2 linked regions of the Homo sapiens genome follow. The protein of the gene in region 2 interacts with the protein of the main gene of each other region in a biochemical or structural test. Each region holds a gene or a part of one and is shown on either strand. Other genes may lie near its edges.

Region 1 (3,746 bases), on a different chromosome or scaffold from region 2:
AGCCAATTCTCCCTCCTAGAGAGAGAAAAACCAGGACAGTCAAAGAAGAGCATCTTGGTGAAGGCTCAGCCATCTTTAAATGTCTTAAGAATTTTTTTGGAAGGGAAAGAGTGTTTATCTCCACCAGAAGACTGCATCAACCTTAAAGGTAGGAACCATGTATATCTTCAACTCAGTACCATCAACATTTTGTACCCAGTGGACACAATAAATGACATCCTTCCAATTCAAGCTTTCCATGCATGTGCCTAACTCCAAGAGGGATCCCCTGCCAAGACTTGTATGATTGAAATCTGAAAGCCTAGGAATCCTCACTGGATCCCTGGTGAGGACAACACAGGAAACCTGAGGGGCCAGGATCAAAAGACCTTAAATCAGAAATAAACAAATAGACCAGGTGCGGTGGCTCACACCTATAATCTCAACACTTTGGGAGTCTGGGGCGGGTGGATTACTTGAGGTCAGGAGTTTGAGACCAGCCTGACCAACATAGTGAAACATTATCTCTACGAAAAATACAAAAATTAGCCGTGCGTGGTGACCGGCGCCTGTAATCCCAGCTACTCAGGAGGCTGAGGCAGGAGAATCACTTGAACCCGGGAAGCGGAAGTTGGAGTGAGCCAAGATCACGCCACTGCACTCCAGCCTGGGCAAGAGAGCAAGACTCCGTCTCAGAACAAACAAACACTATTTTCAAAAGAGAAAAAGAAAGGATAAGGATACATTTCTGAATCCTAAGGTCTCACCACGGGAAGCCTGTATCTTTACAATTCAACAATCAGCATGGCCCCCAGAGATGACGGGGTTCATCCATTCAGATGAGAAAATGAAGAAAGTGGCAGGATTTTGTAGGAATAGGAAGCTCCTTCGGGCTCATGCCCAGCCACAGGCTGCCACAGCACGGAAAGGAAAAGTGAAACCAGCTCCATCAAGTCATTTTTCACTCTAGGATTGTCAAAAGCTTTACATTCATCTCTTGGGATCCGAGGAGAGATATCTGCCGAGAGAGAATTTGGATCGGAGCCAGCAAAGCAAACTCCAGAAGCCTTGGCTGCTGCGAAAGGGGATTCAACACCTTTCCGGGTCGTTCTCACTTCATTTCCAGCCGGTCCCCCTTTGGTGCTGTTTCCCAAGTAATCAGACCTCAGGGGTTGCCTCCTGGTGGGGAAAGGGAAGCTTGCCTTGCTGGAGAAGGGGCTCAAGGCACAGGACTTGCCTCGGACTTGCCAAGGAGGCTTGCAGGAGGCTCTTTGTCTACTCCTCTGTCCTCATCCAAGTAAGAGGAGCGGGGAATTCCGAGGCTGTAACTGCCTGGGAAACGCCAGCCACGGAGCTGCTGAGGATCAGACTCCTGGGTTTCAGCATGGAGGCCAGGGAAGGGTCTGATAATGGGTATGGGTCCTGGCGAGAGGGGAGTGGAGAAAGGCCTTGGAGTGGGACGGGGCGCCAGCTCTGGGGGCAGTCTCGAGGCACCTAGAAAACCGGCGAGTGGGGAGAGGCTGCTAAAGAGGGGCTCCCTGCGAGAATGCGTTCACCAGCTGTGAGGACCTGGCTGGCGCACGAACTTCCAAAGACCTCACATCTGGTTGGTGTAGGGGCGACCAGTGGTAAGGGGGCTGCGGAAAGGGCCCGCAGGGGCTGTGCGTGATGCCTTCAGAGCTGTGTATGACACCGAGAGAGTCAGGGGCGGTGACCCGCGTCTGGAGGTGGAAGGGGAAGTGAGTGAGGGATGGATGTGAGGTTTAGGAATGTGTTGGAAAGAGAGATTCCCGCCAGGTAAAAGGTCTGATAAAATAGGTTTGGAAATCTAGGTGGTGAGGAAAGGATGCGGGAGCAGGTGGCTCTGCGTGCGCGCTGCGTGTTCAGCCGCCAGGCTCTTACCTGCATTACAGGTGGAGGTGAGGAAGCCACCGGCTTTCTGTCTTGAGCGCTCCCCTGGCTGTGGCTGCTGGGGCCCTAGGCCCGCGCCCCGCAGTCCTCCTCCGCCAAACCCCTAACCTGGCTCCGAGAACTGGAAGGTCGCGTGGGAGGAAATCTCTTTCGAGAAGCGCCAAGGCGTGTGCGCCCGGGTCCTCCGCAGGCGGGCAGGCGCGCGAGGCGCTCCGGTAATCGCTATCCTTCCGGGAAACGAAAACGAAAGAGCGGGATGCGGTTCCACTTGCGCCGCTGCGGGCTAGGAGCAGGGCAGGGCAGGGCAGGGGCCGGCCCCGTGGGAGCGCAGCACCGGGGCGCTGCCCGCTCGCTAGCCTGGGAGGCGTGGGTCCTGCACACAGCCTCCAGCCGGCGGACAGTCCCTCTGGCGACCTGGCCTTGGCTCCCACTGGGGCAGAGCCGGGATTCTGCAGGATCTGAGGATCTAAGGGGACCCCTAGTCCTGAACTCGGAACCAACTGCGTCTCTCACGGTCCCGAGCCCAGGACCAGGAAGGACCCTGTGAGTCTCCGCACATAGGATAGGAAGGGGCCTCGCATGGTGCCTCTCCCTTTAGGGGTGAGTGACCTTCCCGGCCCCGATACTGTCTCGGCCTGCCGTTTGGCCCCGCTGAGGCCCCACAGGTCCGGAACCGTCGCACCACCATCAGAGCGGCTGTGCTCTCCTGAGCAGGGCCAGACTACTCGGAGATCCCGACTGACACCTTTTCCTGGGCCTCTGGGTGCTCCGGGGTTGGTGCCTGCCCACCCATCACCCTTTCCATCTGTCTCAGCTCCCCCTGTCTCAAGAGAGGTTGTGCGCATAAAAACAAACCAGAAGACACCGAAGAAAAGGAAAGAAAAGCATTAACAACCTTCTGCTGAAAATCTGAGGGTGTAGACGCTGTTACAAAGTAGGCTTAGCACTGGTATATCATCACAAGCTCTAGGCCAGCAATAAGAAACCAGTAAGAACAAGGCCAGAAACCCAGTAGGAAAAAAAAATGAGCAAAGGATATGAATAAACAGTCCACATAAAAGGAAATGCCAAATGGCTCCTGAATATACAAAAAGATGCCCAGGGTGCAGTGGCTCATGCCTGTAATCCCAGCACTTTGGGATGCCAAGGTGGGAGGATCGCTTGAGCCCAGGAGTTGGACACCAGTCTGAACAACATGGTGAGATCCTGTCTTTACTGAAAATTTAAAAAATTAGCCGGGCATGGTGGGGCTACACCTGTAGCCCCAGCTATTCAGGAGGCTGAGGATGGAAGATCGCTTGAGCCTGAGAGTTGGAGGCTGCAGTGAGCCGTGACTGTGCCACTGCACTCCAGCCTGGGCAGCAGAGAAAGAAAAAGATGCTCAGACAAACTCACTATTTTAAATGTGCAAATTAAAGTTATTCTGAGATAGAAATTTTTACCCATAAATTTGGCAAAAATTTAAAAGTTTACTAACATAATCTGCTGGAAAAGCTGAGGTAAAGTGGTGCAACCCCACAGCGGGGTCTGGCAAATTTACAAATGCATTTTCCTTTCACCCAGCAATCTGCCTACCAGAAATTTATTCAACAAATATCCAAAGTATACATAGTTACTTATTTAATCATGGTTTATAATAGCAAAGTATGAGAAATAACTCAGGTGTCCACAAAAGGAGGCTTGATAAACTAATGCACATTCATTTCTTTTAATTTTAATTTTCTATTTTTTTTTTTTTTTTAGAGACAGGGTCTCACTCTGTCGCCCAGGCTGGAGTGCAGTGGTGCCATCAAAGCCCACCTTAACCTCCAACTCCTGGGCTCCAGTGATCTCCCACCTCAGCTCCCAAATCACTG
Region 2 (3,746 bases):
AGGAAAACATACACGACGCTAATTAGACGAATGCACAGCCTTGGACGTGGAGAAGGCAGAGCGGGTTTACTGTCAAACAGTAAATACATGCATTGACTTCAAGACAGAATTGGCCTTGGAAGCCTTTTTGAATGAAAGCTGAGCCGGTGGGCAGTGCAGCTTTCTGAGACTGTCTTTGGACAGATCTCGAAGGGTGGGTTTTGAGGTGCCACTGAAGCTCTCCTTACATTACTATGGTGGTTGTGTTTTAGATTTGTTCTATGGAGGCCTGCTACCAGAAATAAAAAAGAAAAGAAAGAATGAAGACAAGAAAGAAAACAGAAGCAAACAAAAAGAGAGAGAGAGAGAGAGACTCCACCACCACTATGGACAAAGATATTTCTAGAGACATGATGCAAAGTACATTAAATGACATTCTTAGAATCCCTTTCCCCTAAAAAACAAAAAAAATTCATAGAAAAAAAAGGTTTTTCCTTATCCAGGTTTTGTCAGTCCTTTATGCCACTGTAACTACAGGATTCAAAGCTTATGGGGCTAAGGGCTTGGAAAAAATCAAAGACAAACTTTTGGAGATGGGTCTTGCATATTCCTGTGGGCTGACTGAACACCGTGGCTCGGGGAAGTCTGGGTTCCTTCACACTTTGACTGTCAGAAAATGAAGATCACAAGCTCTGGGAGGTGTAACCTTGTCGGCCTGCCTAGAGCCCACACCTGGCGGCGGCAGGGACGGGCCTGGGGAGCGGGCTGACCACACGTAACTGTCATGCCAGGGTGTGAAGACACAGAACATCAGTTCAAACCTCAGAGGAAAGAGAAGGCTCTCTAGCATGGAGAGCGTGGCATTACTGGGAGGCCCTCTGCGCACGAATGATCAGAAAAGGGGCGTTTTGCTGGCAGGGACAAGGGCCAGAAGAAAAAGTCTACAGAAAAATGCTAAGAGTTAGTGTTCGTGCCTCTGACTTCAGTTCCCAAAGAAAAAACAAACAAACAAACAAACAAAAAACACAGAAATTTGAGGGACTCATCTTTGCCCAATCTTGTTAATGCCATTTGATGGGAAAGAAAAAATTCAAATGTGTCTCAGAGTCAAGGGCTGGGCCTTCAAATGCTGATAGCTCTCAGTCTGTCTGTCTACACACCCCAGGTAGCAAAGTCTTCCTCAAGCATCTTCACTATGCTTTTAAGCTAAAAAGCAAAAACACTGGCAACTGTTGGTGTTTCTTTTTTCCTGCTTGATCACAACTGAATAGTTTCCTGCTGCTTTCTGGACAATGAAACATGAACAAAAATGTAACTTCGTGTATTTAATACTTAACCCCTGTTCGTTATCACCCTAGACTGCCTCCCTAATGTTTTAAAGCCTTTAAAACATTTTTTCCTGCAAATCTGTTCAGAGTTCCCTAATTTTAGCTTCATCAAACTTAATACAACAAAATACCTTCAAAAATACAGCATACCTGTAACGTCCATTTACAATGGTTTTTCAGTAGACCTATACTTCTCAAGCATAGGAATATGCTATACCATTGAGAGAAAAAAATAATTGTATTTAAATACTTACAAAAAAAAAAAAAAAAAGGAAACAGGAAAGTTTTAAACTTAAATCCAGTTCCCAAAGGGGGGGTAAAAAGAAAGAAAAGCAATTCTATGAACGCTGCCTTTATAATGAACGATCAGAAATTTTACTAGGCTAATTTGACAGAAATTTTTCCTCATTTAAACAACATTACAAAAGTCCTGCATTATAAAATAGGGTAGAATAAATCAGTGTAATCAATAAAACTATACAACAATACAAATTACATATCTTCTGAGCGGGCAGTTTATTCTCTCTCTTTGCAGTCATGACTACAACATGCTCACTAAAAACAACTAAAACTGCCCAAACTATTGCTTAGTTTGTTTTGTTTAAAAAAGGGTGCAATTTTATTGTATATACAACCAATTTACTGGTAATACCTTGGCTTATTGCAAGGTTCTGACAAAATGTTTGTCTAGGCTTTTTTCCCTTCACTGTGAAGCACTGAAAGCTGCTATTTTTTCTTTTTTTTTTTCTTTTTTTCCTTTTTTTCATTTTTTAGTGCACATATGTCATAATAAAGTAATGCCCAGCTAAGTGCTATAGGGGAAGGCAAAGTATGCTGGCTGGCTATAGGAAGTGACACCATACACTGACAATCACACCATACAACAGCGCCAAACGACTATTCAACCACTTATCAGACACATATGAAAATCCAAAATGTTTTATTTTATTTTTTTTTCCTTAAATAGAGATAACCAGTAAACAATTTTCAGAACTTGGAAGTTTAAAAACGTGCATATAAAAATGGGCATTATATACTTTTTATTGAATGTGGATTGACTGCAGTCTGCTAAGAAAAATGGGGTGTGGGAGCTGAAGAAAAAGGAAGTTGTCTTTTTTTTTTTTAAGGCTTGCTTGTGAAAGGAACAGTTGTAAAAACAAAATTGCTTGAAGCAGGGTCAGCTTAGTGCTTCACAGTTTGACTGCTTCTCTAAGAGGAGCCCTTCCTGCGCACGTGCATTCAAAAATCACAAAAAAGTACAAAGACAAACACCTAAAACACACTGCGTCAAGTGCAGCACCGACTTTGGTCAAATAAAAAAAAATAAAAGAAAAATTAATAATTGCTAAGCTTTTCTACATGATATAAGCAGGTATTGCATATTTTCATATATCTGGGGGAAAATAAAGGAAGACTCCAAATAAATTGTAAAATGCAGCAACATCCAAAATACTGATATTCTAAGCATCTACAGATCTCAGAATAGCACTGCCACCGACCGTACAGGACAATAAAGACTACTCCTATCTGCGGAACAACTAGCTTTCTATTTAGTTCTAGATGTTGAAACTGACGATGGCTGACATAAAAGTCACATTTACAAAAAGTGTCTCCAAATGCTTGACTAGGGAAAAACCCCTTTCAATAGAGGAGCATGTGCAACAATTCCACAAATAATCGCTATCCAGGGCAAGGCACATTGATATGGAATTTTTGTTTTCGTGCAAATTAAGGAAAAAAAACAAAACAAAACAACATTGTTTCGGGGAGAAAGATGAGGAGCAAAGTGTCTTCCCAAGAATTTCAGTTACTTGATTGTATAGGACAGTAGTAGAACCCTTCTGAAGGGCTGAAAAACATAGTTTAAAGGCAAGTGCCTAGAGTAGGGATTACAATATTGTGTCTTAATGCACTCTACTTTATCCTACATTAACTATATAAAAATTAGTTACTAACACTAGAACATGCAGAGACTTTCTCTGATCAGCAGGGCTTGCCAACCAGAACGTATATATATGTATAGTATAGGAAACCTTCTTGAAGTCGCATGGGAAGCAAAGGGGTGCTTCGCTGTCTGGTAGAAAAATCACTTGCACTTTTTTTTGTTTTTGTTTCTGTGGTTTTTTGTGTTTTTTTTTTGTTTTTGTTTTTTGTTTTTTTTTTCATAAGATACAGGACGTTTGGGGGTGCAAACTTTTTTTTTTTTCCCTAACAAGTACCCTTGATCTGAATGGGCACCAGCATTTGTGTCAGTATTGGTTTCATCATTATTATTATTATTATTATTACTATTATTATTTCCCATAGCCCAGTTCAGGGATGCAAAGGTCTTTAAAACTTCTGGACAATCTCTGGTACAATGAGGTGTCTGATAACTGATAAATCCTATGATGCCAGATAGGTGTAAAATTTTTTAGAATTGGCGTAATCCATTATAGT

The links.
Region 1: the proteins of NFIA (region 2) and ETV7 form a complex in vitro, tested with the Homo sapiens proteins (one study listed by BioGRID).

The regions. Positions count from the first base shown.
Region 1 is NC_000006.12:36,385,655-36,389,400, forward strand, and holds the start of ETV7 (transcription factor ETV7), read right to left. Parts: upstream 2,016-3,746; 5' UTR 1,888-2,015; coding exon 1,882-1,887; intron 1,277-1,881; exon of another isoform or gene 966-1,276; intron 867-965; exon of another isoform or gene 747-866; intron 16-746; coding exon 1-15. UniProt on the Homo sapiens protein: Transcriptional repressor; binds to the DNA sequence 5'-CCGGAAGT-3'. Isoform A does not seem to have a repressor activity. Isoform C does not seem to have a repressor activity.
Region 2 is NC_000001.11:61,456,520-61,460,265, reverse strand, and holds part of NFIA (nuclear factor 1 A-type), read right to left. Parts: 3' UTR 1-3,746.